2 linked regions of the Homo sapiens genome follow. The protein of the gene in region 1 purifies or fractionates together with the protein of each later gene. This does not show direct contact. Each region holds a gene or a part of one and is shown on either strand. Other genes may lie near its edges. The genes, in order: ZNF254 and CYP24A1.

What was found.
Region 2: the proteins of ZNF254 (region 1) and CYP24A1 purify together in Homo sapiens (affinity purification with mass spectrometry; 2 studies listed by BioGRID and IntAct, with this or other methods). This does not show direct contact.

Annotation. Positions count from the first base shown.
Region 1 is NC_000019.10:24,079,823-24,095,915, forward strand, and holds the start of ZNF254 (zinc finger protein 254), read left to right. Parts: upstream 1-7,364; 5' UTR 7,365-7,485; coding exon 7,486-7,515; intron 7,516-12,078; exon of another isoform or gene 12,079-12,193; intron 12,194-16,093. UniProt on the Homo sapiens protein: May be involved in transcriptional regulation.
Region 2 is NC_000020.11:54,148,170-54,164,067, forward strand, and holds the end of CYP24A1 (1,25-dihydroxyvitamin D(3) 24-hydroxylase, mitochondrial isoform 1 precursor), read right to left. Parts: intron 14,694-15,898; coding exon 14,548-14,693; intron 10,955-14,547; coding exon 10,788-10,954; intron 9,996-10,787; coding exon 9,917-9,995; intron 9,417-9,916; coding exon 9,219-9,416; intron 9,121-9,218; coding exon 9,010-9,120; 3' UTR 9,000-9,009; exon of another isoform or gene 6,593-8,999; 3' UTR 5,277-6,592; downstream 1-5,276.

The sequences.
Region 1 (16,093 bases):
AGGACTTGGAAGAAGAGATCATATGGTCACTTGTTTGTTGAAAGAGATGAAGAAATGTATGAAAAAACCTGTTAACAATGAAAAGGTTAAGCAACTTTCTCAGGGCAAAGATGACAATCCAGCTTTGTTTTAATAGTGTTTAGTTGAGGCAATCAGAAAATATACTAACACTGATCTTGCCTCAATGAAAAGATAGACCCTTCTGGGAGTACATTTTATAACCCAGTCTGCCCCTGATATCCATAGAAAACTACTAAAAGCAGCTATGGGTCCCCAAACTTCTCTGGAACAGCTTTGGATATGGCATTTTTAGTTTTTAATAACAGGGACAAAGCGGAGGTAGCGGAAAGAGGAAGAAGGACCTCCCACAAGTTGCAGGTCTTGGTTGCAACCTTAAGCTAACCTCCCACATGGGGTTGCCCTCCTGGGTCTTGGGTTGAACAAGGGAAGCTGAAAGGTGGGAAGCCTAAACCTGGGTGTCCGAGTCACTGTGCCTTGGGCATAAATCAGGTTGCACACTGTAAGAAAACTGACCACTGGAAGAGGGTTTGTCCAGTGTTCTGAAGAGAGCCATCAGCACGTGAACTAATGATGGGTAAAACAGCCAGGCAAGCACCCAAGAGTGACGGGGACTGAGACCTTCCACCACGGTTTCCATCAGACAACTAGCCATATATCTGGAAAAGCCTCAGTATTTTTTGCCATGGCAGTTAAGAATATGAAGTTTCACCAGGTGCGGTGGCTCACACCTGTAATCCTAGCACTTTGGAAGGCCGAGGTGGGTGGATGACTTGAGGTCAGGAGTTCAAGACTAGTCTGGCCAACATGGTGAAACCCCATCTCTACTAAAAATACAAAAAATTAGCCAGAAATTGCTTGAACCTGAGAGGCGGAGGTTGCAGTGAGCTGAGATCGTGCCACTGCACTCCAGCCTGGGAAACAGAGACTCCGTCTCAAAAAAAAAAAAAAAAAAAGGAAGCTAGATGAGTTGCGAGTTGCCTCATGCCTGTAATCCCAGCACTTTGGGAGGCTGAGGTGGGTGGTCGGGAGTTCGAGACCAGCCTGAGCAACAAGGAGAAACCCCATCTCTAGTAAAAATACAAAATTAGCTGGGCGTGGTGGCACATGCTTGTAATCCCAGCTACTCAGGAGGCTTAGGCAAGAGATTCACATAAACCCGGGAGGCCGAAGTTGCAGTGAGCTGAGATCATGCCACTGCACTCCAGCCTGGGCGACAGAGTGAGACTCCTTCTCAAAAAAAAAAAAAAAAGAATATTAACTTTCTTCTGGACTGCTTACTCTGTTTTGACCCATTATAATGGGTCTGTTTCACCCCCAAACTGTATGGTCACGGGGATAGATTGACAAGCCCATAGATGCCATTTTACATAATCTCTAAGCTGTTTTTCAGTGACTTCGGTTTTCTTACATAACTTCCTTATCATGCCCGGATGCCTCAGGGAAGTCGTAGCAATTTCTCTTTCAGTAGATAAAGCCAATAAACTGGCTTTAGAACAACATTCTGAGGTTTAAGCCCACACCAAGTATGAGGAGTTCTATAAGCCAAAAGACACCAGTGGATGACAGGGGACACTTATTGAAATAGCAGACATTTTGCTAGACACTCCAATTAACCTGATATGAGGTGCTAATCAATAAAAAATAGTTAAACATTTGCATGACTCTACTCATTTGGGAATAAATTCCCTGTTTAATATCTCGGCTTTTTATAGAAAAATAATTACTTAAAAGAGTAAACCAGGTAACCCAGGCCTGTGAACTATATGCCTGGAACAACCCAAATGACCAATGTTTACCTCCTCCTTTAGTAAGGCCTGTTCAGCATAGAGGAGCATACCCTGGTGAAGACTGGCAAATAGACTATACTCAGATGCCCCCGTGTAAAGGGTTTAAATATTGATTAGTATTCATTGACACCTTTACCGTTTGGATTGAGGCTTTTCCTACCAAGTCTGAAAAGGCAATCAAGGTTTCTAAACTACTAAAAGAAATAATTCCGATGGGTACAGTATCTCACGCCTGTAATCCCTGCACATTGGGAGGCCAAGGCAGGTGGATCACCTGAGGTCAGGAGTTCGAGACCAGCCTGGCTAACATGGCGAAACCCCGTCTCTACTAAAAATACAAAAATTAGCTGGGTGTGGTGGTGTGCACCTGTAGTCCTAGCTACTCTGGAGGATGAGGCATGAGAATCACTTGAACCTTGGAGGCAGAGGTTGCAGTGAACCAAGATTGTGCCATTGCACTCCAGCCTGGGCAACAAGAGTGAAACTCTGCCTCAAAAGAAAAAAAAAAAAAGATAATATCGAGTCTCGCAAAATATAGTAATTAAGAAGATTCTTTATCACAAACCCTTGTGGCAGAGCACATCTCCTCATAGGTAAAAACATTGTAACTATGGTAAATGTGTTCCTCAATAGTAAATTAATTATTAAACTTATTCAAAATTATTTTATTTAATTTTTCAGAACAATGCTTATGTTTTGTATAGCTAATTGCTGTAATTCTTTAACAAAAACTGGGCCAGACACAGTGGGTCATGCCTGTAATCCCAGCACTTTGGGAGGCCGAGGCGGGCGGATCACGAGGTCAGGAGATCGAGACCGTCCTGGCTAACACGGTGCAACCCCATCTATACTAAAAAAAAAAAAAAAAAATTAGCCAGGCGTGGTGGCGGGTGCCTGTAGTCCCAGCTACTTGGGAGGCTGAGGCAGAAGAATCTCTTGAACCTGGGAGGCGGAGGTTGCAGTGAGCCCAGATCGCGCCAATGCACTCCAGTCTGGGCAACAGAGTGAGATTCCATCTCAAAAAAACAAAAAAAAAAAACCCAAAAAACTATTTGATTGATGTCTCATTACAAAATGTATAAAAGCAAGCTTTGCCCCGACCACCTTGGGCACATGTTCTCAGAACCTCCTGAGAGCTGTGTCACAGGCCATTGTCACTCATATATGGCTCAGAATCAATCTCTTCAATTTTTTTTTAAACCATCTGTGACAAACCCACAGCAAACATTAAACTGAACAGGAAAAAGTTGGAAACATTTTCTCTGAGAAATGGAACAAGACAATAGTGCCCATTTTCATCACTTCTATTCAACATAGTACTTGGAAGTCCCAGCCAGAGCAATTAGAGAAAAGAAATAAGTAGCGAGCCTCCAAGTTGGTAAAGAGGTAGTCAAATTGTCACTGTTCACTGATGTTACAATCATATAATTAGGAAACCCTAAATACTCATAAAAAAGCATCTAGATCTGATCAATTCAGTAAAGTTTTAGGATACAAAATTAATGTGCACATATTAGTGGCATTGGTATACACCAACAGTGACCAAACTGATATTTAAATCAAGAACTCAACCCCTTTTAAAGCAGCTGCAAAAAAATAATACTAATAATTAGGATTATCCCTAATGAAGGCCATGAAAGATCTCTACAAGAAAAACTGTAAAATATGTCTGAAAGGTATCATAGATGACACATACAAATAAAAACACATCCCATGCTTATAGATGGGTAGGGTTAGTATTGTAAAAATCATATTACCAAAAGCAAGCTACAAATTCAATACAATTCCTATGAAAATAACATCATAATTTCCTCACATAACTAAAAAACTCTAAAATTCATATGAAACAAAAAAGAACCTGCATAGACAAAGCAAGACTAAGCAAAACAAAAATAAACTCAAGATGGATCAAAAATGTTAAGACCTGAAACTATAAAAATTGTAGAAGGTAATACTGGAAAAACTCTTCTAGACATTGGCTTTGGCAAAGCGTAGATGACCAAGAACCCAAAAGCACATGCAACATGAAACAAAGACAGATGAGACTTAATTAATTCTCAAAAGAAGATATACAAATGGCCAACTAACGTAGATAAAAATGCTCAACATTACTAATGATTAATGATCAGGAAAATGCAAATCAAAACCACAATGTGATACCACCTTATTCCTGCAAAAATGACCATAATTAAAACATCAAAAATAATGCATGTTCGCATGGTTTTGGTGAAAAGGGAATACTTTTACATTGCTGGTGGGAATGTATACTAGTACAACACTATGGAAAACAGTATGGAGATTCATTAAAAAATTAAAAGTAGAACTACCGTTTGATTCAGCAATTCCACTACTGGGTATCTACATGGTGAAAAATAAGTCATTATATGAGTAAGATACTTGCACATGCATGTTTATAGCAGCACAATTTGCAATTGCAAAAGAATGGAAGCAGCCTAATTAATGCCCATCAACTAATGAGTGGAAAAGGAAAATGTGGCATATACCACATTTTCTTTATATATATATAATATATATAAATAATATATAATATATTTATAATAATATATATACACCAATGAATGCTACTCAATCATAACAAGGAATAAAATAATAGCACTTGCAGCAACCTCAATGGAGTTGAAGAACATTATTCTAAGTGAAGTAACTAAAAAATGAAAAAAACAAATATTGTATGTTCTCACTTATAAGTGGGAACTAAGCTATGAGAATGCAATGGCATAAGAATTATATAATGGACTGTGGGTACTCAGTGGCAAGGGTAGGAGAAGAGTGACGGATAAAAGACTACATATTGGGTACAGTGCACACTGCTTGGGAGATGGGTGCTCCTAAATATTAGAAATCACTACAAAAGAACTTATCCATGTATCCAAACATCTTCTGTACCTTAAAAACTTTGGAAATAATAATAATAATAATAAACAAAAAATAATCCCAAACCCCGTAAGTTTAACTTTCTATGCTTTGGCTGTTTTTGGTTTATTTTTTATTTTTTAGAAAGGGTCTCACTCTGTCACCCAGAATAGAGTGCAGTGGCTTAATCAGGGCTCATTGCAGCCTCGACCTCCTTGGTTCAGGCAATCCTCCTCCCTCCGCCTCCTGAACAGCTGGTACTAAAGGTACAGGCCACCATGCTCAGTTAACTTTTGTATTTTTTTAGATACATGTTTTTGCCATGTTGCCCAGGCTGATCTCAAATTCCTGGGCTTAAGCAGTCTTCATTTCTTGGCCTCCCAAAGTGCTGGGATTATAAACATGAGCCATCATGAGTGACCACAATCTTTTTTTTTTTTTTTTTTGAGACAGAGCCTCACTCTGTCACCCAGGCTGGAGTGCAGTGACCTGATCTTGGCTCACTTCAACCTCCTCCTGTCAGGTTCAAGCGATTCTCCTGCCTCAGCCTCTGAGTAGCTGGGACTACAGGCACGCGCCACCACGCCCAGCTAATTTTTGTATTTAATAGTGGAGATGGGGGTTTCACCATATTGGCCAGGCTGGTCTTGAACTCCTGACCTCGTGATCCACCCACCTCGGCCTCCCAAAGTGCTGGGACTACAGGCGTGAGCCACTGCACCCAGCCCAGAATTTTTTTTAACATGATATAGAAAAGCTAACTATATTTAGATCTGTTACTTAACAGAAAATTTGAATAAACGTCTTTTATTAAAAAACATAAAATTTTTTATCTACAAATATTGATACAAAACAGTTCAAAATTACTTCCTAGGGGTTTCACTAAAAATTAGTTTGTTAAGGGTATATATATATATATATAAAAACTAAGATTTCTAGGTGTAAAACAATTTTTTTATAGAGAGTGTATAAACAAAGGCCAGGCGCAGTGGGTCACGTCTGTAATCCCAACACCCAACACTTTGGGAGGCCAAGGCAGGTGGATCATTTCGAGCTTAGGAGTTTGAGACCAGCCTGAACAGCAAGGCAAATTCCAGTCCCTACTTAAAATACAGAAATAAACCGGGCATGATGGCTTACACCTGTAGTCCCAGCTACTCCAGAGGCTGAGGCTGGAGAATCGCTTGAACTTGGGAGGCGGAGGTTGCAGTGAGCCAAGATTGCGCCACTGCACTTCAGCCTGGGCGAAAGAGCAAGCCTCTCCTGGAAATAAAAAAACAGTGTATAAACAAAAGCAAAATATGCTTTTGATGAAGAAAGTTAGAAACATTTTGTCTACTTTGAAATTATTTAAAGGTTGTTTCAAATTGAAAATATAAAAATAATGTAGATTAAAATACAACATAAAAATTTAAAAAATGGCCAGGCACGATGGCTCACGCCTGTAATCCCAGTAATTTGGGAGGCTGAGGCGGGTGGATTACCTGAGGCCAAGAGTTCGTGACCAGCCTGGCAACATAGTGAAACCCCGTCTCTACTAAAAATGCAAAAAATTAGCCAGGTTTGGTGATGCACGCCTGTAATCCCAGCTACTCGGGAGGCTGAGGCAGGAGAATCGCTTGAACCCAGGAGGCAGAGGTTGCAGTTAGCCAAGATGGCGCCACTGTACTCCAGCTTGGGCGACAGAGCTAGACTTCGTCTAGACAAAAAATAAAAAATAAAAAAAAGTATAAGAGATCATAAAATATGTATAAAAATCTAGAATGGTCAAAAAGACAAATTTGATGGACTTTATTTTTGTTATTTTATTTTATTTTTTGAGACAAAGTCTCGCTCTGTCGCCCAGGCTAGGGTGCAGTGGCAGGATCTTGACTCACTGCAACCTCAGCCCCCCGGGTTCAAGGAATTCTGCTGCCTCAGCCACCCGAGAAGCTGGGGTTATAGGCGTGCGCCACCATGCCCAGCTAATTTTTTTTTCTTTTATTTTTTTGAGACGGAATTTTACTCTTGTTGTCCAGGCTGGAGTGTAATGACGCGATCCACGCTCACTGCAGCCTCCACCTCCCAGGTTCAAGCAGTTCTCCTGCCTCAGCCTCCCGAGAAGCTGGTATTACAGGCACGTGCCACTACGCCCAGCTAATTTTGTATTTTTAGTAGAGATGAGGTTTCACCATGATAGTCAGGCTGGTCTCCAACACATGACCTAATGTGATCCGCCCGCCTTGGCCATCGAAAGTGCTGGGATTACAGGCGTGAGCCACCGCGCCCAGCTGATGGATTTACTTATAACGGTTTATCAAATTAGCTTTAGTGCTGATAATACATTATTACTAAAGTAAAAGTTGATTTTCTCTTGAACAAAAATTATATGTATTATTAATATACATAAAATATGTTTGTTCACATTTTGAATACATTGAAAAAGAGAGAGAGCAAAAAAGATATAGAATTTTCCCATGCTCTGGGGTGGGCCTGGCTCAGCTCAGGGAGGAAGCCCTGCCCGATAAGGCTGCAGCTTAGGCTGTCACTCTTTCTTCAGCCTAGGGTGTGATCACATCTTCTATCACTCAGGGTCTGAGTAGGCGGGGCCTTAAACGTTATCCAACTAGGGACGTTGGGCTGGGAACTGTCCAATCAGGCACACAGCTGGACTGGACAAAGCGGCTTCCGGGATATGGCGGGGCCTTTGTCTCTCGCTGTCGCCGGAGTCCCAGGTCTGTCTTCACTGCTCTGTGTCCTCTGCTCCTAGAGGCCCAGCCTCTGTGGCGCTGTTACCAGCAGGTATTGGAGATCCACAGCTAAGATGCCAGGACCCCCTAGAAGCCTAGAAATGGTGAGAATGCCAGTCCGACATCCCGAGAGAGGGGAGGGGGCTGGTTGGAACTGGTGGGAAGCGGCTGTGGCGGGACTCAGGCCTCCCCCCAGTCAGCTCCACAATCTGCGCCCAGCTCGACCTCAGTCCCCTTCAGAAATAAGATGGCGGCTGCGCTGACAGCCAGACCCCCAGGAGTCCTGTTTCTTCCCTGCGCAGTGACTGTGCCCTGTCCTGGAGCCCTCTCTGGGCAGCTGTGGACCCGCAGCCCCGCGTCTCTCCCAGATTGTTCAGGGACCCGGGGAGGGTCGTCAGGGGAGAATCCTGACTCGGGTTGCGGGTTCATGAACGGGAAGAGCTTTGGTCTGTGGGGTTCCCAGGCCCTCTTTTTTCCCATTAAAAATTTATGGGCGTCACTGCAAAAATATTAAATACTTTAATAAAAGAATGATTCAAAAATTGTACCACACCCAGCTGTGGTTTGTACTTTTGTGGTCCATGGAAGGGGCCTGAAGAAAAGATTGTTACAAGGTTCATGATAAAGAAAACCAAATTCAATAATTGGCTAGGTACAGCAATCTAGGTTGTCGTTTTTTTTTTTTTTTTTTCTTTTTTTTGAGACAGAGTCTCACTTTTTTGCTCAGGCTGGAGTGCAGTGGTGTGATCTCGACTCACTGCAACCTCCGCCTCTTGGGTTCAAGCGATTCTCCTGCCTCAGCCTCCCTAGTAGCTGGGACTACAGGCGCCCGCCACCACAATTTTTTTATTTTTAGTAGAGACGGGGTTTTACCATGTTGGCCAGGCTGGTCTCCAACTCCTGACCTCAGGTGATCCACCCACCTTGGCCTCCGAAAGTGCTAGGATTACAGGCGTGAGCCACCGTGCCCAGCCTCGTTTCTTAATTTTTACATTTAAGGTGGGAATATCCTGGTTATGTAATCAGAGCTTAATTGTCAGCTTATTCTTGGTTAAGCAAGAATTTTGTTTCCGCTAATGTAGTAATTTACCAAAAAATGCTCTTGAGTTTAGATTTTTTTTTTAGAAGTAGAAATCCGGGGACTAGAGCCACCTCAATCTAATTGCCTGCCACTTAATTATTTTCACACTCCACAGGGGACTGCTTTTTTCCTGAAATTTTCACATGTATCCCAAGCAGGGCCTCAAGTCCACCCCTCATCCCCTATTCCTCCAGCCTAACTCTGGCTTGCAGGAAAATACTAAATTTCCCGTTTTGTCTGACATTCCCAAATGCCAATGTCCCCTCCCTAATTCACTTTATCATCTATTTGTCCTTTAGGGTAGATTTTGATACCTGTTTTAATTTTTATTTATTTATTTATTTTAATTTTTGAGACAGAGGCTTGCTCGGTCACCCCGGATGGAGTGCAGTGGTGCAGTGGTGTGATTTAGGCTCACTGCAACCTCTGCCTTATGGGATCAAATGATTCTCTTGTCTCAGTCGCCCAAGTAGCTGGAATTATAGGCGCCCGCCCCCACGCCTGGCTAATTTTTGTATTTTTAGTAGAGACCGGGCTTCACTATGTTGTCCAGGCTGGTTTCAAACTCCTAGCCTCAAGCGATCCGCCTGCATCAGCCTCCCCAAGAGCTGGTATTACAGACGTGAGCCATCTCGCCTGGCCAATTAATCTTTTTTTTTTTTTTTTTTTTTTTTTTTTTGAGACAGAGTTTCACTCTTGTTGCCCAGGCTGGAGTGCAATGGCACGATCTCGGCTCACCGCAACCTCCGCCTCCCAGGTTTAAGCGATTCTCCTGCCTCAGCCTCCCTAGTAACTGGGATTATAGGCATGTGCCACCATGCCTGGCTAATTTTGTGTTTTTAGTAAAGACAGGGTTTCTCCATGTTGGTCAGGCTGGTCTCAAACTCCCGACCTCGGGTGATACGCCCGCCTTGGCCTCCGAAAGTGCTGGGATTACAGGCGTGAGCCACTGCACCCGGCCAATTAATCATTTTTTGACAAAGCATTTGATGGCACATTTAAAAAGGTTTGTTTTCTTTTTGTAAATATTTCCTATGAGAAGAAAGCAAAGAATAATCTCCTGACACTGTATTGTAAAATATCTCTGCGTTTTTTTTTCTTCTATCTTCCCTAGTCACAGATATCTTATCAGAATGTTTTTGGGTCAAGTTTTCCTTTTGGAAACTATAGTGTGATGTGTCTTCAGTCACCATTCGGTTTTCTTGGACCTGGGTTTCAGTACTGTATTGGGATAAACGAAGATACCCACCATGGCTATGTCTGCTTAGAGTGTCTAGTAAATATCAGCTTCTGGGTCATATTCTCTCATAGGAAAATCTGAGGTATTGAGTGTAGCGTCCCAAGTGCGCAGGTGGATGCCCTGAGTCTAAAAGGCATTTCCTAGTGCACTTTTTTTTTTAAAGCTAATTTTATGAGACATTAATATTGTCTTCACCCAACCCAGCTTTCATTTCTTAAAGACACATTGCTGGTCAGTCAATCAGATACCAGTATTGAGGAGAAAACAAATAATTTCTGCCTCCTGGTTTCCTTTAGAGAACAGAAAAATAGTAAAAAATTTCTAGAAAACAAAACAAAACAAAACAAAAACGAGGGCCAGGCATGGTGGCTCATGCCTGTAATCCCTACACTTTGGGAGGCCAAGGAGGGTGGATCACGAAGTCAGGAGTTCGAGACCAGCTGGCCAACATGGTGAAACCCCATCTCTACTAAAAATACGAAAAAAAAAAAAAAAAAGCTGGGTGTAGTGGTACAGGCCTGTAATCGCAGCTACTCAGGAGGCTAAGGCAGGAGAATCAGTTGAACCTCAGAGGCGGAGGTTGCAGTGAGTGGATATCACGCCACTGCACTCCAGCCTGGGCGACAGAGTGAGACTCCATTTCAAAAACAAAAACAAACCGCAAAAAACTGACCCCAGTGAGATGGTGTAAGAACTTGCAGAGTAAAATGCGCCTGAGACACTCACTGGGGCATAGTTCAGAGTCTCCTGAGAGGGGGTTATTGAGCACTTTAGTGAGTAGGATGGGGTGGGACAGTCTCTCAAGTAATTGGATGGCCTGACTTGACACATGATTAAGACATATCTGTGTCTTGAAAAGGTTTTTTCACTTATTTTGACCTAAGGCTTGTTTTCGTTGTCTTGAGACAGTTTCCCTCTGTCACCCAGGCTGGAGCGCAGTGGTACCATCTCGGTCCACTGCAACCTCCAGATCTTGAGTTCAGGTGATTCTCATGCCTCAGCCTCCCAAGTAGCTGGGACTACAGGTGTGCACCACCACACTCAGCTAGTTTCTGTAGTTTTAGTAGAGACAGAGTTTCACCATGTTAGCTAGGCTGTTCTCAAACTTCTGGCCTCAAGTGACTCACCTGCCTGAGCCTTCCAAAGTGCTGAGATTACAGGCGTGAGCCATTGTGCCCAGCTCACCTCGGTTTTTTAACTGTGTATTGCATTTTATTAGTAGAGCTTGAAAGGTAAGAAAATATTTGCAAAGGGCATAAAAGAGGTGAGTTTCAAAAACATTAATATCTAATAATATATTTTATTTGTTGAACATTTTCATTTACCTTTTTCTTTCTCAGAGTGAGTTTAGGAAGTTTCTCGGACATGTTTTTTTTTATGGAGGAGTGATTTTTTTTTTTTTTTTTTTTTTTGAGACAGAGTCTCACTCTGTCGCCCAGGCTGGAGTGCAGTGGCGCCACTTTGGCTCACTGCAACTTCTGCCTCCCGGGTTCGAGCAATTCTCCTGCCTCAGCCTCCTGCGTAGCTGGGATTTCAGGCACACACCACCACACCTAGCTAATTTTTGTATTTTTAGTAGAGACAGGGTTTCACCATGTTAGGCTGGTCTTGAACTCCTGACCTCGGGTGATCCGCCCGCCTGGGCCTCCCAAAGTGCTGGGATTACAGGCATCAACCACCGTGCTTGGCCTATGGCTGAGTGATTTCAAACAGAATTCCATCTAGCTTTTAGAATGGTAGCTACCAAGGAAAAAAATAAAGAAAAAAAAAAAAAAATCTCTCTTCAATTTCAGCTGTAGACAATGAATACATTTCCACAAAACAATGTGATAGATAATTGATGAGTTAAATAGATTCCTGAAAACTTCAATTCCTTTTTTTAGCAGGGTAAATCCTTGGTAGTGAACATCTTTGTTCTATATCCTGTGTTTTTTTGTGTGTTTGATTGTTTTTTGAGATAAAGAGTTGCACTGCGACACCCAGGCTGGAGTGCAATGGTGCAATCTTAGCTCACTGCAACCTCCAATTCCCAGGTTCAAGTGATTCTCCTTCCTCAGCCTCCGGAGTAGCTGAGACTGCAGGCCTGTGCCACCACACCTGGCTAGTTTTTGTATTTTTAGTAGAGATGGGGTTTCACCATGTTGGCCAGGCTGGTCTCGAACTCCTGACCTCAAGTGATCTGCCCACCTCAGCCTCCCATAGTGCTGGGATTACAGGTGTGAGCCACTGCGCCCAGCCCTATATCCTGTTATTTTGATTTTTGAGTTTAATGCTAAATTTTATGTGATGAAACTTGGTACCTCCTAGAAGTGTTCCTATGTGATTAATTTTTTTTTTTTTTTTGAGATGGAGTCTCGCTCTGTTGGCCAAGCTGGAGTGCAGAGGCGCAATCTCAGCTCACTGCAAGCTCTGTCTCCCGGGTTCACGCCGTTCTCAGCCTCTCGAGCAGCTGGAACTACAGGTGCCCGCTACCACGCCCAGCTAATTTTTTGTATTTTTAGTAGAAACAGGATTTCACCATGTTGGCCAGGATGGTCTCGATCTCTTGACCTCGTGATCCACCCACCTCGGCCTCCCAAAGTGCTGGGATTACAGGCATGAGCCACTGTGCCTGGCCTTTTTTTTTTTTTTAAATGGAATTTTGATGTTGTTGCCCTGAGTGGAGTGCAGTGGGCGATCTCGGCTCACCTCAACCTACACCTCCTGGGTTCAAGCAATTCTCCTGCTTCAGCCTCTCGAATAGCTGGGATTACAGGCACCCACCACCACCATGCCCAGCTAATTTTTGTATTTTTAGTAGAGATGGGGTTTTATCATGTTGGCCAGGCTGGTCTTGAACTCCTGACCTCAGGTGATCCACCCTCCCCCCCGGCCTCCCAAAGTGCTGGGATTACAGGTGTGAGCCATCACGCTGGGCCAAGCAATCCTCTTGTACCTCAGCCTTCCACGTACCTGGGACTACAGGCATGCACCACCATACCTAGGTAATTTTTGTTTTTGTATTTTTTTAGAGATGGGATTTTTCCATGTTGCTCAGGCTGGTCTCAAACTCCTGAGCTCAGGCAATCCACCTGCCTTGGCCTCTCAGAGTGCTGGGATTACAGGCATGAGCCATTGTGCCTGATCATACCATATTTTCTTTATTCAGTCTACCATTGATAGGCATTCAAGTCGATTCCATGTCTTTGCTATTGTGAATAGTGCTGTAGTGAACACCCTTGTGCATGTGTGTTTATGACAGAATAATTTATATTTCTTTGGGTATATACCCAATTATTAGGTTGCTTGATGAAATGGTAATTCTGTTTTTAGTTCTGTGAGAAATTGCCACACTGCTTTTTACAATGGTTGAATTAATGTACACTTTAACAGCAGTGTATAAGCGTTCCCTTTTCTCTGCAACCTTGACATCATCTATTTTTTTGCTTTTTAATAGCCGTTCTCACTGGCATGAGATTGTATCTCGTGGTTTTTCTTTGCATTTCTCCAATAATTATTGATAGGCATTTTATTATATGTGTGTTAGCCACATGTTTGTCTTCTTTTGAAAAGCATCTTTTTCAAGTTTTTTGTCTGCTTTTTAGTGAGGTCTTTTTTTTCTTGTAAACTTAAGATTTTTATGAATTCTGGACATTAGACCTTTGTTAGAAGCATAGTTTGCAAATATTTCCTATTATTCTGTTGGTTCTCTGTTTTCTGTGTTGATAGTTTCCTTTGCTGTGAAGAAGCTCTTTAGTTTAATTAGGTCCAATTTGTCAATTTTTGGTTTTTTTGCAGTTGCTTTTTGTATCTTCAATTATGAATTCTCTGCTAGATTCTATGTCTAGAATGACATTTCCTAAGTTATCTTCCAGGGTTTTTTATAATGTTAAAATAAACATTTCAGTCTTTAATCTTGAGTTGATTTTTGTATATGGTGTAATAAAGGGGTCCAGTTTCAATCTTCTACATAGTGCTTGCTAGTTATTCCACCACCATTTATTACATAGGGAATTGGTTCCACATTTCTATTGTCACCTTTGTTAAAGATCAGATGGTTGTAGGTGAGTGACATTATTTCTGGACTGTCTATTCTGTTGCATTGGTCTATGAGTTTGTTTTTGTACCAGTTCCATGTTGCTTTGTTTACTGCAGCTCTGTAGTATAATTTGAAGACAGGTAATGTAATGCCTTCAGCTTTGCTGTTTTTGCTTGTGATTACCTTGGCTATTCAGACTCTTTGGTTTTATATGAATTTTACAATAATTTTTTTTTTTAGTTCTTTTAAAAATATTTTGGTCATTTGATTAGAATAGCATTAAATCTGTAAATTTTGGGGGGCAGTATGATCATTTTTAGGATATTGATCTTTTCTATTTATGAGCATAAAGTTGTTTTCCATTTGTGCCATTTCTGACTTCTTTAAGCATTGTTTTGCAATTCTTATAGAGATCTTTCACCTTCCTGGTATTCGTAGATATTTTATTCTTTTTGTGGCAGTTGTGAAGGGATTGTGTTTATGATTCGTATTTGGCTTGGATGTTGTTGATTTACAGGGACGCTACTAATTTTTGTACACTTACTTTGTATCCTGAAATGATACTGCAGTTGTTTGTAAGTTAAAGAGCTTTTCTATGAAGACTATATGGTTTTCCAGATGGAGAATTATGTTGTCTGCAAACAGGGATAGTTTGACTTCCTCTCTTCCTGTTTAAATGCCTTTTATTTATTTTTATTTTTATTTTTTTGAGATGGAGTCTTGCTCTTCGCCCAGGCTGGAGTGAAGTGGCAGTCTTGGCTCACCGCAAACTCCACCTCCCAGGTTCAAGTGATTCTCTTGCCTCAGCCTCCTGAGTAGCTGGGATTACAGGCATCCGCCACTGCGCCTGGTTAATTTTTGTATTTTTAGTAGAGGTGGGGTTTCACCATGTTGGCCAGGCTGGTCTCGAACTTCTGATCTCGTGAGCCACCCACCTTGGCCTCCCAAAGTGCTGGGATTACAGGCGTGAGTCACCTTACCTGGCCAAATGCCTTTTATTTTTATCTTTTGCCTAATTACTCTGACAAGTACTTCCAATTTTATGTTGAATAGTAGTGTTGAGAGAAGGCATCTTTGCCTTGTGCCAGTTTCCAAAGAAGAATGCTTCGGGTTTTTTTTTTCTTTTCTTTTTGAGATAGAGTCTCACTTTGTCTCCCAGGCTGGAGTGCAGTGGCACAATCTCGGCGCTCTGCAGCCTCCACCTTCTGGGTTCAAGTGATTCTCTTTGCTCAGCCTCTCAAGTAGCTGGGATTACAGGCACCTGCCATCACACCTGGCTAATTTTTATATTTTTAGTGGAGACAGGGTTTTGCCATGTTAGCCAGGTTGATCTCAAAATCCTGACCTCAGGGGATCCACCTGCCTTGGCCTCCCAAGTTGCTGGAATTACAGGCATGAGCCACTGCACCCGTCCACTTCCAGGTTTTGTCCATTCAGTATGTTGGCTGATGGTTTGTCATATAGATAACTTATTATTTTAAAGTATGTACCTTCAATGGCTAGGTTGTTGAGGGTTTTTAACATGAAAGATGTTAAATTTTATCAAAAGCTTTTTCTGCATCTATTGTGGTAATCTTGTGGTTTCTGTCTAGTTTTGTTTATATGATGAATCACATTTATTGATTTGTGTATGTTGAACCAACCTTACATTCCCAGAATAAATTCTACTTGATCATACTGGGTTAGCTTTTTGATATGCTGCTGGATTTGGTTTGTCAGTATTTTGTTGAAGATTTTTGCATCAATGTTCAAAGGTATTGGCCTGAATTTTTTTTTGTTTGTTTTATCTTTGCCAGGTTTTGGTATCAGAATAGTGCTGTTCTTATATAATGAGTTGAAAACAAGTTACTTTTTCTTAATTGCTTAAAATAGTTTCTGTAGAAATAATAATCAGCACTTTTTTGTACATCTGATAGAATTCAGCTGTGAATCTGTCTGGTCCTTGGCTTTGTTTGGTTGGTAGGCTATTTATTACTAATTCAATTTTTGAGCTTCTTATTCATCTATTTAGGGGTTTCATTTCTTTTTTGTTAATTCTTGGAAGGATGTATTTGTTCAATACCTTTTTCATTTTTTCTAGATTGTCTTGTTTGTGTGCACAGAGGTGTTCATAGTACATTTCAAGATATTTTTGTGGGGTCAGTGGTAATGTCTCTTTTGTTATTTCTAATTGTGTTTATTTGGGTCCTTCTTCCTTATCTAGTTAGTGGTTTATTTATTTTTTCATAGATTTAATTCCTGGATTTTTTGATATTTTGTAAAGTTTTTATGTCTAAATCTCAGTTTAGTTCTGATTTTGGTTATTTCTTGTCTGCTGCTAGCTTAGGGATTGATTTTCTCTTG
Region 2 (15,898 bases), on another chromosome or scaffold:
TATTTTTCTTTTCTTTTCTTTTTTTTTTTGAGATGGAGGCCTATTTTTCTTTTAAATTATTTTGACATAATTTCAGAAAAGTTACATGAACAGTACAAAGAATTCCCATATACCATTCACCCAGATTCTTCAAGCATTTGCATTTTACTACTTTGGTTTTGTCCTTCTTTTTCTCTCTTTCTACATACACAGACACACAGACACACACACACACACACACACACACACACACACACACACACGTCTTAACTCTGAATGCTGAGCTTGCCTAGAAGCAGTAACATCCCAGTAGCAACAAGCACCAGGAGCCAAAATCTCGATTTCTAAATGTTCTTTTCTACTGAAACAAATTAGGACTTCTTGAAGAAACAGATGATTCCACGGTGGGGCAGGTAAAGTACAAGATCAGCCTGGAATATTTTATTGTTCCAGAAAGCAGGAAGTGCTCAAAAATGGTAACAACATGTCAAAACAAACAAACAAACAAAAAACCAGCAACAATGCACAGGAACCTATTTAAAGAGGCTCCCATTAATCAAATCTGGGGCAATCTGAATATCAAAATGAATAATGACAGTGTAAAAATTATAACCCATTCAAAAACATAAGAATCTGCAAGCTCGCACTGACATAAATAGACATAAATTATAAATAATTAATTCTTCCTGACAGCACGACTGTAATCTCAGCACTTTGGGAGGCCGATGTGGGCAGATCACAAGGTCGAGAGATCGAGACCATCCTGGCCAACATGGTGAAACTCCCTACATAGCTCACCACAATAGCAAGTTTATATGCATTTCTGTGATTATTTGATTGACATTTCCTCCCCTTGTTCTTCCCCATCCTCCGTAGTAGGATACAGATGGCGTAAGAGCAGGGACATGTTTATTTTGGTTTGCCCCTGTACCCATGATGCTTGGCTTACAGATCTTCATAGGCACTCATTAAATATTTCCTTTTACCTGGTTGTCCTAGTTGTAATGTTTACAACCACCATTTATGGTAACCAATAAAGCTAGGCAAATTTCCCAGGACTCGTGCCAAGTTGTAAATCCTCCTCTCCAAGGTCTTCTAGATTACCAGGTCATACAGTGCCTGTCACAGGGTAGATGCTTAGTGACTCAGGGCAATTGTGATTGTCATCAGTAACACACGCTGCTCAGTGCTCGTAGCTTATTATGACACCTTTCTGGTCCCTATTCTGTCTCCCTCAAGGCTGACTCCATATTTTAGCTTTAACAAAATTTCCAGGGATATTTGTGGGAAACCAGTACACAATAATATATATGGAATTCAGTCCAGTTGGCTTTTGTGATGTCCAAATAATTTTTTTGAGAGAGAGGAAGGGAAAAATAAAAAGAGAGAAAGGAAAAAAAAATGAAGGAGGAAATGGAGAGATCAAAGGAATTCCTCAACGTTTGTAGCAGGGATTCTACAGACCAGGTACTGCTCCCCCGGAGAGTAGGAATTATTTATGGGGAAATTACTTACACAGGGGATGGAGTGAGGTTGCATTATATGCACACTTAACCCAGGCACATCCAACCATCCATGCTTGGAGTGGAAAGATGACTATGGAAGGATGTAGCCCAGGTGATTCCAACACCCTCACTCAATGAGAACAGCAAGATGAGAAACGAGATCCACCTCTTGCCTTATTTCTCATGCACATCTCAAAATGTGAGCTCCTGATGCCCTTGGTGTGGTTCTAGCATCTGAGGAAGTGCATTTTTCATGTGACATGGCCCCTAGACATAAGCCAACTACTTTAGGTTGTTTTCACCCACTAGAGCAGAAAGCTTTTCCAACACCGGAAGGAATCCTCTGTGGATTAAAACCCATTTATGCCTAGTGTTCCATTAGTGGAACGCTAAGCTTCTGGGAGTTATTGAAATCCCACTGCTTAAGGTCATCGCTAAGGTCTGATTTTTCACAAAAAAATTTGCAACCTCTGGCATAAATGGGTTAATGAGGGATGAAACTATGTGTTTACGGTATACTTTACAGATAATTGAAGGGATGTAAAGTTTACCGTAACTCTAAGAAATTTTTACTCTGGTTGACTTTCAAACCTAAATCCCCAGTGCGCTTTCTCGCTAATGAAACACCTGTGAGTTCCATACCCCTTAAACTTCATGCTGATATAGCAGGAAAAATCCTAGATTTTATTTTATTTTTTGATATTGAATTTCACTTTTTTGCCCAGGCTGAAGTGAAGTGGCATGATCTCGGCTCTCTGTAACCTCCGCCCCCCAGGTTCAAGCAATTCTCCTGCCTCAGCCTCCCAAGTAGCTGGGATTATAAGCACCTGCCACCATGCCCAGCTAATTTTTAGTACAGATGGGGTTTTGCCATGTTGGCCAGGCTGGTCTCGAACCCCTGACCTCAGGTGATCCATCGGCCTCGGCCTCCCAAAGTGCTGGAATTACAGGCATGAGCCACCGTGCCCAGCCAAAAAACCCCTAGATTTTAAAGTTGTTAACTTCACCAGGTTTTAATTCTAGAGGAGTCATTTCCCAACTGTGTGACATGGGGAGTTTACTTAACCTCTCTGAGCCTTAGCTATTCAATGGACGTTAACATATGCGATGCACAAGTGTTCTCATGAAGATCAGAAAATTTGAAATGTACGTAGCTCGGTGCTGAGCATAGAGCAGGGATGGTGTCCAAATTCTTATTTCCTCAATCAGAGAGGCAAAAGTCAAACAACTCCCTTTACAGGGGCAGAACCTGTCAAAAGAAATGTGCTGGGCCCAAATGGGAAAAATGAGACAATTACACCATCTGAAAATACAAACACGATCAGTTTTACCTACTTGTGGAGCAGAACCTAAGAGACTTATGGGAAATTAATTTTTTTTTAAGTGAAAGCAAGTTTATTAGGAAAGTAAAGGAATAAAGAATAGCTACTCCACAGGAAGAACAGTAGCATGGGCTGCTTGATTGAGTAGACTTGTAGTTATTTCTTGATGATATGCTAAACAAGGGGTGGGCTATTCATGAGTTTTCCAGGAAACAGGTGGGCAATTCCCGGAACTGAGGGTTCCTCCCCCTTTTAGACCATATAGGGGAACTTCCTGATGTTGCCATGGCATTTGTAAACTGTCCTGGCGCTGGTGGGAGTGCCTTTTAGCATGTTAATACAGGAAATTAATTTACTTTTCTGTTTAGAGTCTTCTTGGGACTGATGGAGAATCACCAGGACAATTACAAAATACAGTGGACTCCATCAACCCAATGGTCTAATCATGGGAGGTTTTACCCTAAATACTGGAAACTACAAATCCACAGATTAAATTTGATACATTTGGTTTGGTTCAAATCTAGTTGCCAAATAGTGATTTTTCTAATCCCATCAATTTTGTATACTTTTATTTAATTAATTTATTTTTTGAGACAGAGTCCTGCTCTGTCGCCAGGCTGGAGTGCAGTGGCATGATCTCGGCTCACTGCAACCTCCGCCTCCTGGGTTCAAGCAATTCTCCTGCCTCAGGAGAATCTGCCTTTCTCCTCCCAAGTAGCTGGGACTACAGGCGCGTGCCACCACGCCCAGCTAATTTTTTGTATTTTTAGTAGAGATGAGCAGTACATGACGTGCATCCCACAGGTCCGGGAACCAATCTATCTTTGTTGGAATCCTGGCTTCCCTACATACTAACTGTGATTCTAAGGAGATTACTGAGCACCTCTGTGCCTCAGTTTCCCCAGGTGTGAAATGGGAAGAATGATCACATCTACTTACAGGGCAGTGACAAGGATTTGTGAATTCATATGTAGCAAGTGCACAGAGGAGAGACTGGGGCAGCAAGATCAGTCAATAAATATTATTATCATCATGACCACATTGGCCATGTCAGTGTCGGCTCCAGGCAACCTGCTCAGGGAGGTGAGGGGCAGCAGACGTGGCCCTTGCTCCACCCTGTGCTCCTCACACCCATTTGCCGGTCTTTGTGCCCTTCGCCCAGGTTTTTCATGCTTTGCTCCTCATGGCTGGCACCTGCAGCCTTCTTCAAAGACTACCTTCTGGCTACTATAGCCATTTTGCCTGGACATGTAAAGTCTAGAAGTATCTTAGAGTTTATACCCCAAGGTGCAGCCTGAACTGAAGGAGTGTGGAAGCCCTGCTCCCTGGGCACAAGGAGAACAAACTGAGCTGCAATGTACACTCCAGAGCTCCCAGAGATCAGGCTGAGGCTGGAACTTCACTCAAAACCACACGCTTGTTTGGCTTCTTTCCCTTCCTCATCCTGCTGTCCCCACAGTCGCACAGGTCTCCTTGGGAATCACAACCCTAATGAATCCCGGTGCTGGGGACAGCCCCTGTGGGATCTAAGTCATCAAGGAAGATTTCCTTCAGGAAATGAAAGCTGGGTGGACGTAGATGGTGCGTAGGAGAAGAACAGGCAGAGAAAGAGCATGCCGGGAGGGAGACGGTGGGAAGAACCCTCTTGCTAGCATTTAAGGAACAGCAGAAACTGGCAGAAGCCACTGTGGCCTGGTTCCAGAGGCCTCTGGGGGTGGATGATGTGGGCTGAGGCCTGGGGGATCAGTGGGACCTCAGTTGATAGGGCCTGGAAGTGTGGATTGCAGAATCGGATCTTTACGTAAGAGCAATGGGAAGCCCCAGAGGCAGGATGAGGCATGATCAGGTTTGGGTTTGAAAAGACCAGTAAGGCAAGTGTGCAAAGAACAGAGGGGAAGGAAGCAAGAGAGGACTGAGATCAGCTGGGAGCTCCTGCAGAGACTAGAGATATTAGTGGTCCAGGCAAGAGATTGTCAGTATTGCTCCCAGCCACGGAAAATTTGGCTGTTGTAGGTCTTTCATTGTGAAATGTAAACTTATTCTTGGGAATTAAGTATTCAAACAGTGAATGTGGTAGGCAGGGGCTGAAATGGTTCGTAACCTCTACCTGACTGCCAAGTGCCAGCCTCCCTTTCATGTCATGAAAGATACAAGAGAGAACAGGCTCCCAGGCCGTTCTACCCCCCTTTCAATCACACAACCAGTGTGTGACTGATTGTGTGATTGGAAAGGGGGTAGAGATAGAAGTAACTGGACTTGGGAAATATTTAAGCAGCAACAAAATGGAAAGTTATTTTGCAATTACAAGAATAAACTTTCAGTAAAACTGCTATTAAAGTCTAGATTTATCTAAGGGTAAATTTTGTGATATAGGGCTTGTAGGCCATATGAGAAAATTTTCTACCAGTAAAATAAAGTTTGAATTTGTTTTTATTTTGTTGTAACAAAGGCAATAAAGAGGGGAAGTCTCTCAAATATTTAAAAACTTTTATTTTTACTTTCAGAGAATTTGAAGGTATACAGATGAAATCTGACAAGACGTGAATTTATAATTCTAAAAATAATTTCACAGCAGAGAGAAAGCATATACCTAGATATGTACATATTTATTACAATATAAAGACATAAATGTATATTTCTGAAATATTCTAAAAATATAATGTAGGAAGAAATATTTATCAAATACACAGAATTATATACAGTATGCATTTAGGAAAAGCAGTAGTAAAAATATGCACAAATAAACCATCTGTAAACACAATTTTTAAGTCTTATAAGTATTGCATGCATTTCTGTGCATTTTACATTTATGAAATCATATTTTTCCTAGGAGTTCAAATCACAAAACAAATGTTATATAACAGATCTCTAACTTTTGCATGCTTTACACTTGTCCCATTTAATAGACAGAAAAATTATGGCATGGGAAATCATTTTATAATATTAAAGTCACACTGAATGTTTTTAAGCTGTGACTAAACTTTGAAACATTGCCCTGCACCACAGATCCTAAATCAAGTACTGCAAATATTAAAAAAATGACTGAGGCAAATTACCATTAGAACCCACACACACATACACGGACACACACACACAGACACACACACACATGCATGTCTGTGCTTCATATGCACATACACAATTTAAAAATTATTGCTTCATCTTTACCCTAATGCCATAAAGGAATCACATTTAAAAAATAAACAATTTTAAGGTCCTCTAACAAAATAATGCCCCAGTGAATCACTAGTCTTATAAGTTGTTTGACTTCGTTAAAGTCCTTTTAAAAATAGAGGTGTTCTCTAGTTTCCCAATAATGTTTTTATTTCAATGCAGGAAGAACGCAATTTCATGGGAGGCCTGATAACTTTAACCATCATTTAGCTTGGCTTACATTATTAAGCAGGGACATTTTCCTAAGTAGTACATTAAGCAGAGCTACAGTAAATGGATTGTCAGTATTACTCCCAGCCCCAGAAAATTTAGCTGTTGTAGGTCATTCATTGTGAAATGTAAACTTATTCTTGGGAATTAAAGATTCAAACAGTGAATGTGGTAGGCAGGGCCTGAAACGGTTTGTAACCTCTACCTGACTGACAAGTGCCAGCCTCCCTTTCATGTCATGGAAGATGCAAGACAGAACAGGCTCCCAGGCCATTCTAAGCACCTGAAGATGGTGCTGACACAGGTGAAGTGTAAACCAGCAGTGAACCCTGTAGAATGCCTTGGATCCCAGCACTCAGTCCGCTTCCCTGAGTTGGATATGATGTTAGCAAATACCACCATCTAGAAAGACAGTACAGCTTCTGGAACAATTTTGCAGAAGAAAAAGTATCAACACCTGGGCCTAAATATTCTTTATAAGCTGTTGTATGGTGTGGTGTTTGAAGTTTGCTTTCCGGTAACGTAGAAGCCATAAGCACCATTCTTGCAGAAAAGTTGAAATGGCTGTTTTGGTCTTGGTAAAAAAAAAAAAAAAAAAAAAAAAAAAAAAAAAAAAAAAAAAAAGGTATACCCTAATTGTATATCAAAGAAGTGTATTTAAACAAGACAAATTATTAGCCAAAGAAAAAATGCTAAAACTTAAAAGGTGTGGCTTACTGTGATAAACATGCATGCTCTTTGCTGAAGGCTGGGGTGTCACAATGCAGCTAGAATACTTTCCTTACCCTACTTGATTCAGTTCTGTTGGTTGGGATGCTCAGAATTTGACAAATTTCATAATAGCATCAGACACTTGGTGGAGGAATAATAATGTATTCATTTGGGCCTTGTTCAGAAATTTCATCTGTAATTGCATGTTTCTCTAAATAATCTACCAATAAGCAAATGCTCCTTAACTTGCCATTGGCAAACAGCATTTTTTTCTAGGAAAATCCTAGAAGGTGCTGCTAAAAGAACACAATGATAGAATCCGGGTTTAAACACCGACATGTCAGCCTATAAAGCCATATGTTACAAATGTCTTATTTCCACCACCAGGGGTGGTGGCTCACACTTGCAATCCCAGCACTTTGGGAGGCCGAGGCGGGTGGATCACGAGGTCAGGAGTTCAAGACCAGTCTGGCCAACATAATGAAACCCCATCTCTACTAAAAATACAAAAAATTAGCTGGGTGTGGTGGTGTGCACCTGCCTGTAATCCCAGCTACTCGGGAGGCTGAGGCAGAAGAATCGCATGAACCCAGGAGGCGGAGGTTGCAGTGAGCTGAGATTGCACCATTGCACTCCAGCCCAGGTGACAGTGTGAGACACTGTCTCAAAAAAAAAAAAAAAAAAAAAAATTAGGGCCTTCTTAGGCTAACTTTTGATCACTTCAATAGTTTTGAATTCATTGTAATGTCTATTAGGAGAACATAACTAGACTTACTAACTCTTAATTTCATTAAGGAAATTATTACTCAGGACGAGGCCAACATATGCTATTTGGCTTATGTTATTTAAAGGAAATAACTCAGTAGTATTGAAATAAATAGCACCTGGTTGGTATATGGACATGGCAAAAGTTGTGGAGGGAACATGAGAACTCCTCTATTGTCAGAAAAAGTATTGAATGGCATACTGCAGAAAAAATATTCTATTGTGTTCAATACAGGCTGATAAATATATACATTTATATTACATGTGGTTGCATAACACAAACCTAGACCCTAGGGCTAAATACAGTCCACCGCTTGTTTTTTATAAAATTTATCAGAACACAGCCTTTGTAGGCAGAATAACAGATCTCCTAAAATGTGAATGCCCTAATCCCTGGAACACGTGAATATACTACCTTATATGAAAAAAAGGGCTTTCCAGATGAAATTAAATTTATGAACTTGGAGATGGGAGACATGATCCTGGATAATATCTTGTCAGACAGAAGCAATGTAAGAAGAAAGAGAGATTCAAAGTGTGAGAGGGACTCAACCAACCATTGTTACTGGCTTTCAGTTGGGGAAGGTTTCATGAGCCAAGGAATATGGGAAATCTCTCAAAGTTGAGGATCGCCTTCAGCTGACAGCAGCAAAAAAATAAAGACTTCAGTCCTGTAACCATGAAGAACTAAATTCTGCCAACAACCAAACTAGCAAGAGAATAGATCCTCCTCTAGAACCTCCAGAAAGAGCCCCGACAACACGATAATTTTAGCCTGGAAGAGCCTCATCAGACTTCTGACCTATAGAACTGTAAGATAATAGATGTGTGTCGTGTAACTCACTAAGTTTTAGTAATTTGCGGTGGCAGCAATAGAAAGCTAGGACATCAGCTCACTCATTAGTTTACAAATTGCCTGTGGCTGCTTTCATGTTCCAAGGTAGTATTAAGAGGATGTGACAAAGACTGTATGGTCCATAAAACCTAAAATATTTGCCAACTGGCCCTTTACGGAAAAAGTTTGCCAACCCTTACTATTCACATGCAAAAACCATGAACAGCTGCTAGCATTTACTGAACACTTAATTGATGCCAGGCTCAGGAATAACTACTTGGTATTCATATTAAATTTTTGTGATACACTCTCTTTGGGTCATCATTTTACAAATGAAAAAAAAAAAGGAAGTAGAGAGTTTAGGGAACTGCTCAAGGTCACCCAGCAAGTTAGAGGTGAGCTGGGATTCAAACCCCAGTCTGGCTGACTTCCCAGCATAGCTCATCCCTCGTCATTCTCACTACCTTGCAGAGGATAATGAACCGCCTAGATGCTCACCTGAGGCGTATTATCGCTGGCAAAACGCGATGGGGAGTTCCCGGCTGGGCACCAGGGTGCCTGAGTGTAGCATCTCAACAGGCTCATTGTCTGTGGCCTGGATGTCGTATTTGCGGACAATCTGTAATGCACACGCACACAAAAACAGAATTACCCCTCTCTTCTTCTGCCTTGTGAAACAGCACAGAACATAATTGCAGAAACCGGTAAAGGTTTTACCCAACAAAGAGCCAAATGCAGTTGAAGCTCTGCTAATCGGCGACCAATGCACATTCTTTTTCCAACGCCAAATGGAAGATGCGCAAAAGGATTAATTTTTTCCTTCTCCTGAAGCCAACGTTCAGGTCTAAACTGACTTGAATCTTCAAAATTGTCTTCACTGGATCCCAACACCTGGGTATTTAGCATGAGCACTGTCTAAACACATGCAGAGACACATAGTATTTAAAATAACCAGAAGAGACCTTTGAATGGCAAAATTGACACAAGTTGTCACCTTACAAATCAAAAGCCAAATCCACAAATTTATAATAATGATGGTTGCCAACATGCGCTGAGTGCTTAAAATGTGCCAGGTAATAAATAGGTAAAGGGCTTTAGAATTGTGCACCATACTCACAACCACCCTGCGCAGCAGATTCTGTTATTAAACCCCTTTTACAGACGAAGTTGAGGCTCACAGAGATTATGTAACTCACTCAAGACAACACAGATAAAAGATGAAACTGAATGCAGGTCTCTGTCTCCATAGCCGTGAATTCTAATTCTATACTATGCAACATGTCAACTATTCTCTACCATCTCTGCATTCCCAAAATGAATATTTTCCAGTACAAAGTCTAGGGAGATCTGGTGAATATTTGCAAAGTGTATCTTCCAAGGTTTTGTAAGGTATAGAATATACAAATTCTACTTACTCCTTTGGGTAAAGCATATTCACCCAGAACTGTTGCCTTGTCAAGAGTCCGAGTTGTAAATGGTACACTCGGCGTAAGCCTGAAAAGATAAAATCAAAGATGTAAAGGTGAGCACAGTCTAAGTTCTCTCTGAAGTGTCAATGGGAATGCAGATTGGATTAAATAAATGCTGCCCAAGTGCATACTCAAAGAGGCAGCATGATCACAGATCTTCCTAAAGAAGTTGTTTTTTTCTTCTCAATAATTGTATCTCTTGTTCCTCTCATCTTCTTGAGTTAGTTAAAACCCCAGTGCAAGGCTGTTTAGTAAACTGTTAACGTTGGTTTTCCCCCTTCATTCCAGACTAAAATGTGTATGTTTCCGTGCTAGCCCTTGAAGCGTGATGTTTGTTCTATGTTTCTCCAATCTACTCTTCACAAAGTTGACAGTATCCTTCTAATCCTAAAATGTTGTGAGTTTTGTTTTCCCAAAAGGATGTAAAAAGAATTTCCAAAAAATGTTTTATACCAGAGGCTCAAAAGCAAAGCTTTCTCTGTGTCCTATTATATAATAATATAGCTCTTTTGTGAGCCTCCATCTCATAACCTTCAATCATGCCCCTATCTTAATTAGTGCTTACAGCGTTCATTAGAGTAGCAAGATTATTGAATTAAAGGGGAGGGCACTGGCTTTCCAAGATTTAATAGAATTTGCCCAAATGATTTAGGAAATGAGTGCCAGAAAAGAAATATGGCTCCAAAGATTTTTTTGCAGTGTGATAATTGTTTCTAATTAGCTAGGGGAAGCCGCCCATGAGTAGGGGACCACTTGTTTTGTGTTTACGAGAACAGTGTTCTAACACATTTATATTGGCTCAGAGATAGGCTCTTACCTCATAGATTCTTTCAGACAGGCTTTTAAATACGGCATATTCCTCAAATCTTCTGCCCGTGGCACCTGATTCTCAGGTAATACACTTTGAATTTCCTTAAGAAGCTTTTGTTGCACTTGGGGATTACGGGATAAATTGTAGAGAATCCACATTAGACTGTTTGCTGTCTGCAAGCCAAATGGACATAAACTTGAGTTTTTGTAAATAACTGCATTAAACCACTATTAGCTGAAAAAAAGGTGATGCCCACCACCTTATTCTGCAAATGTATCAGTGAAGCTCTTTCACGCGTCCTTATAGCTACGCCTTTAGACAAATCCAATATATAAAAAAGCAGACTTATTTCATAAAACATATCAATTAAGGATATATTTTAAATTATTTACTGAGGGAATCAAAGTATAATCCTTTAATCAGCTGCTTTAGAACATTTAAATACAGTTTTTTTTTTTTTTTGAGATGGAGTCTCACTCTGTCACCCAGACTGGAGTGCAGTGGCACTATCTCGGCTCACTGCAACCTCCACCTCCTGGGTTCAAGCGATTCTCCTGCCTCAGCCTCCTGAGTAGCTGGGACTACAGGCATCCACCACCATGCCTGGCTAATTTTTGTATTTTTAGTAGAGATGGGGTTTCACCATGTTGGCTAGGCTGGTCTTAGACTCTTGACCTCAGGTGATCTGCCTGCCTCCAAAAGTGCTGGGATTACAGGCATGAGCCAACTGTGCCTGACCTAAAATACAGTTTGACGCAATAATTGTTCGAACACAAATGAGTACATGTAAAATTGGTGAAATGAGAATATTAGTGGGTTAAATCAATGCCAATTTTCAGATTGTGACAACGTTTTCTCGTTAGACAGGACATTACTATTAGTGGAAAACTGGGTAACGGATGCAAGGGATCCCTTTCTATTTTTTCTTAGAACTGAATGTGAATCTACAATGATCTCAAAATAAACATTTAATTAAAAGTTGCTTGATATAAAAAACATTCATATAAAAATGGAGTAAACAGAGAGGGATGGTGATCCTCAGGGTGTTGCTAATGAGAGGCTTTAAGAGAATGTTATAGTGGAAATGGACAATAAATGGCATTTCTGAAATTTAAAAGTTCCTTTGGCCACACCCTAAAAAGTCACCACAAAAATAAACAGGCACTACCTACACTGAGGGTTACAACCACATGTAAACAGCCCTCATACGAGGGTGCCAACACCAAAAATAAGAAATTCAAACATTGAGCTGAGTACTCCAGCTACAGTTTCTGACAAAGGCCCACACCCTTTTAAGTGGCATCTTTTATTTCCTCTGCACAGGCAATGACTAGAGAAAAAATATTGGTGGAAACAGCCAATGTAGCTTTAAGCTACATAATATTCACCACTAGTAGTCATATGTATTTATTTTTTAGGCCGTACTTTGCTAATTTAAGCCAAATATTTCCTGAAAATGATCATTGTGTCCACCTCCGCAGACATGAAGACGCTGTTGCTAAGTGCCATGTGCCACTCACACAAATGAGCACCAAGTGCAAGACCATTCAGAGATGATGGTTATTTTATTATTTTTGGAAGAAGATGCCTCCAAGGCAGTCTTCTTCATGTCAGAGGACTGGCAGCCTCGGCTGCAAATAAACTGTAGATGCCATTATTATAAGAGTCTAATTTACAAAACAGGAAGAGGGTGTAGCCATCAAATTAGATACACTTTCAAATGGTTCTGATTTTCCAAATGTGACTTTCAGAATAGCCAGGACCAAAAAAGAAACAGATTTAACCATATCAGTGAGTCCCTCACCGCAAGTACCAAATAGAGTTTCCAAAGGGCAGATGACTGTAGCTTTTACCAAAGCCACGTAAGGCAGTCTGAGCCTGTAGGGAAAACTGCAGGGGCTAAGCTGCAGCAGCTGATTTGAGGGGAAGTGGCCTGGAAAACCTCAGGGGCACAAACTATCCTTGATTGACCTCCATGGAACAGACCAAGCTCATTGACTGGCCTGCTGTACCCACTCTCTTGGCTAAGTCTATTCTCCATCCACCAGCCAGAGCCCACTTTTAAAAACATAAATGATCAGGTGATTCCCTTGCTTAAAATGCTGCAAGAGCTTCCCATCACAGGTGCAATCAAATCTAATGCCTTACCCAGGCTGGGCTCACAAGGCTCTGGCTAACATGGCCCATCCAATTCTCCAGTCTCAGCTCTGACCACATTTACTAGTTCTGTAGCTCCATCCCTCTTTCTGCCCCAGGGCCTTTGCATGGGCCGTTTCCTCTACCTGCAGCGCTCTTCCACGAGGTCTTTCTGTGGCTGGCTCTTCTCATTATTCCAGAGTCAGCTCCAGTACTGCTTTCTCAGAGAGGGCTTCCCTTTAATCATCTCCATCTCTCTATATTACACCATCCTGATGGCGTCCTCCACAATCCACACCACTATCTAAAGTGACCACATTTGTTTGTTTACATGGCTACTGTCTGTCTTCCCCACTTGCATACAAGTTCCATGAGAGTGGGAACCCTTGTCTCTGGTTCATGGTGGTCTCTCAAGAACCTGGAACAGTCCCAGGCATACAGTAGGCACTCAATAGTTCCTGAATTCCTTCATTTATTCAACAAGTATCTATCAGCCGCTACTAGATGCCAAGTACTGTTCTATGTCCTGGAAACACAGCAGTGGACAACTCTAAGCCATTGCCCTCAGAGAGGTCACGTTCCAGTTGAAAAAATAAAAGAATAATGGGTGACACTGTACTTTGATCACTGGAAGGAGCCACCCAGGGTAAGCAGTTCAACAGGAAAGTGAGCGAGGATGGATTCCCACTTTCAACCGCCTTGTGGAGCAGGAGGAGAAATGAGAACCTCGCTATCTCCTGATAGAGAAAACCCTACCTTTACTTCAGGCAAGAAACAGCACAGAAGGGGAAGCACATGGAAAATAAACAACTGCTTTACATTTTGCTTAGAGACTTTAAGGTGCATGAAATGTTGGACTTAGGAGGAGGTTAGCGTGCGCCACTCCCATCACAGCTCGAACTAGTATCCAAGTCAATTAAACCTACCTGAATGCCTATGGCAGGATTTGTTTGGGGTTGGTCTCACTTAGTATCTGCTATCTCCTAGGGAGTATCGGCCACATCAGAGACAGAATTTTGGTCTTTACAATGAGCTGTTTTGCTTCAGTTAAAATCCACTTGTCCCAGACTCTTTGGGACTTTGTTTACAATTCTAAGCAGATAAAAATATTATTGGCTTGAAAGAGAGTATGCCTTTTTTTTTTTTTTTTTTTTTTTTTTTTTTTTTTACAGTAAGTAACAGCCACAGTTAGGCACTTTGGGGTAACATGTGCAACTGAACAAAATACTTCCAATTTTGAAAAATCTGGATTCTGTATCTTGCCAGGGCAGAGAACTTTACTGCTCCTGAACTCCCGTAGCAGTTTGCATGGACATCATGGCACTCATCACATCCTACTCTGGCTTTTTGTCACTGGGGCACATGAAGTCTCCTCCTACCCAGAGTTTAAGCACAGAAGCCCGTGCATGGAGGCACCGTGGCGTCTGGTATGAGGCCGTGCGCTGAGGCACCGTGGCATAGATGCTGTGCGCGGAGGCACCGTGGCATCTAGTATGAGACTTTTCATTTTTGTGGAGTTGATGCTAGTGAATCCCAGTGAAATGAATGAGATGAATTACTATTTAAAATCTGTCATCTAAAAATGGTACAGACCGTTCATTTAGCAAACTCAAATCCAGCCCACCCTTACCGTTTCCACCGCAGCCAGCTGGAGCTCTGTGACAGCAGCATACAATTCTTTCTTTGAAAGCCGATTCTGGTGATAAATGTCACAAAGGAAATCTGCACTAGGCTGCTGAGAATACTTCTCTAACCGGTTGTCGATACAAGCTTTGACTATTAGAGCAGAGAAGAAAGAGAGGAAGTCAGCTGAAAATTGGGATGAGGAAAATCACAGAAGAAAACCTCAGTCCAAACTCCTTCTTGCAATATCTAAATAGTCTTTTCAGGAACACTGACAATTTGCTACACACACTAATTATATTATTGCCTTCTTGTCAAGTCGGCAAGGATTTTTCAATACCGACATGAGCAAGGCTTCTCAAACTTTAATGTGGATAGGAGTCACCTAGGCATCTTCTCAAAATGCAGAATCTGAATCAGGGCTTGGGTAGGCCTGGAACTCTGCATTCCTAATAAGCTTCTAGGTGATGCTGATGCCACTGGGCTGCAGGTCATAGTTTTGAGTAGTAAGAGTTTAGATCTTGGGAGAAAAAAGTGTAAAAGAAGGTAGGATTTGGGTTCACTTTCAGAATCCAACTTGGACCCAGATATTACTAAGCACACATACCCCACATACATACGCACAAGTAGAGTGTCCATCCATGTTGACAATAATGGTAAAAATTTCTAATATTTATAACATAAAATCTAGGCGTGTACCTCCCTCACTATTAAGCAAACAACCACCAGGCTCATTATATGGTAATAATCATGCTGATCACATATGGCACAGCAGTTAGAGTTCGAGTCCTGGAAGCTCCTTGTCTGGCTTCAAACCTTGGCTTTGCCATCACCTAGCATGCAATCTTGGGAACGTTGGCTAACTTCTATGTGTCTCAGGTACCCCTCTCAGGGCTAATAAAAGGACCTACCTTATAGGTGTGTTGTGAGGATTAACTAAATGTGTAAGTGAACAATGCCTAGCATCAAATATTCCCCTTCGTCATGTGGCAGAAATAGATCTAGTCCACGGAGATACTGTGATATGCCAGGTTTTTATGTTAACTGTAATCTGTAGTAGACCCAGAAACAGTTACATTGAGGTAGGTTCTCTTATTATTATTATTAATTATTAGTCCATTTTAGAGACAAGGCAACTGAGGATGAAAAGGTGATTGCACATTTGGCCAAGCCACCACAACCAGTGACAGAGCTGAACTTGAACTCAGGAGTCCCTGACTCTATAAATTTTACTTTTTTATTTTGAGATGGAGTCTCACTCTGCCTCCCAAGATGGAGTGCAGTGGCTCAGTCTTGGCTCACTGCAACCTCCGCCTCCCAGGTTCAAGCAATTCTCCTGCCTCAGCCTCCTGAGTAGC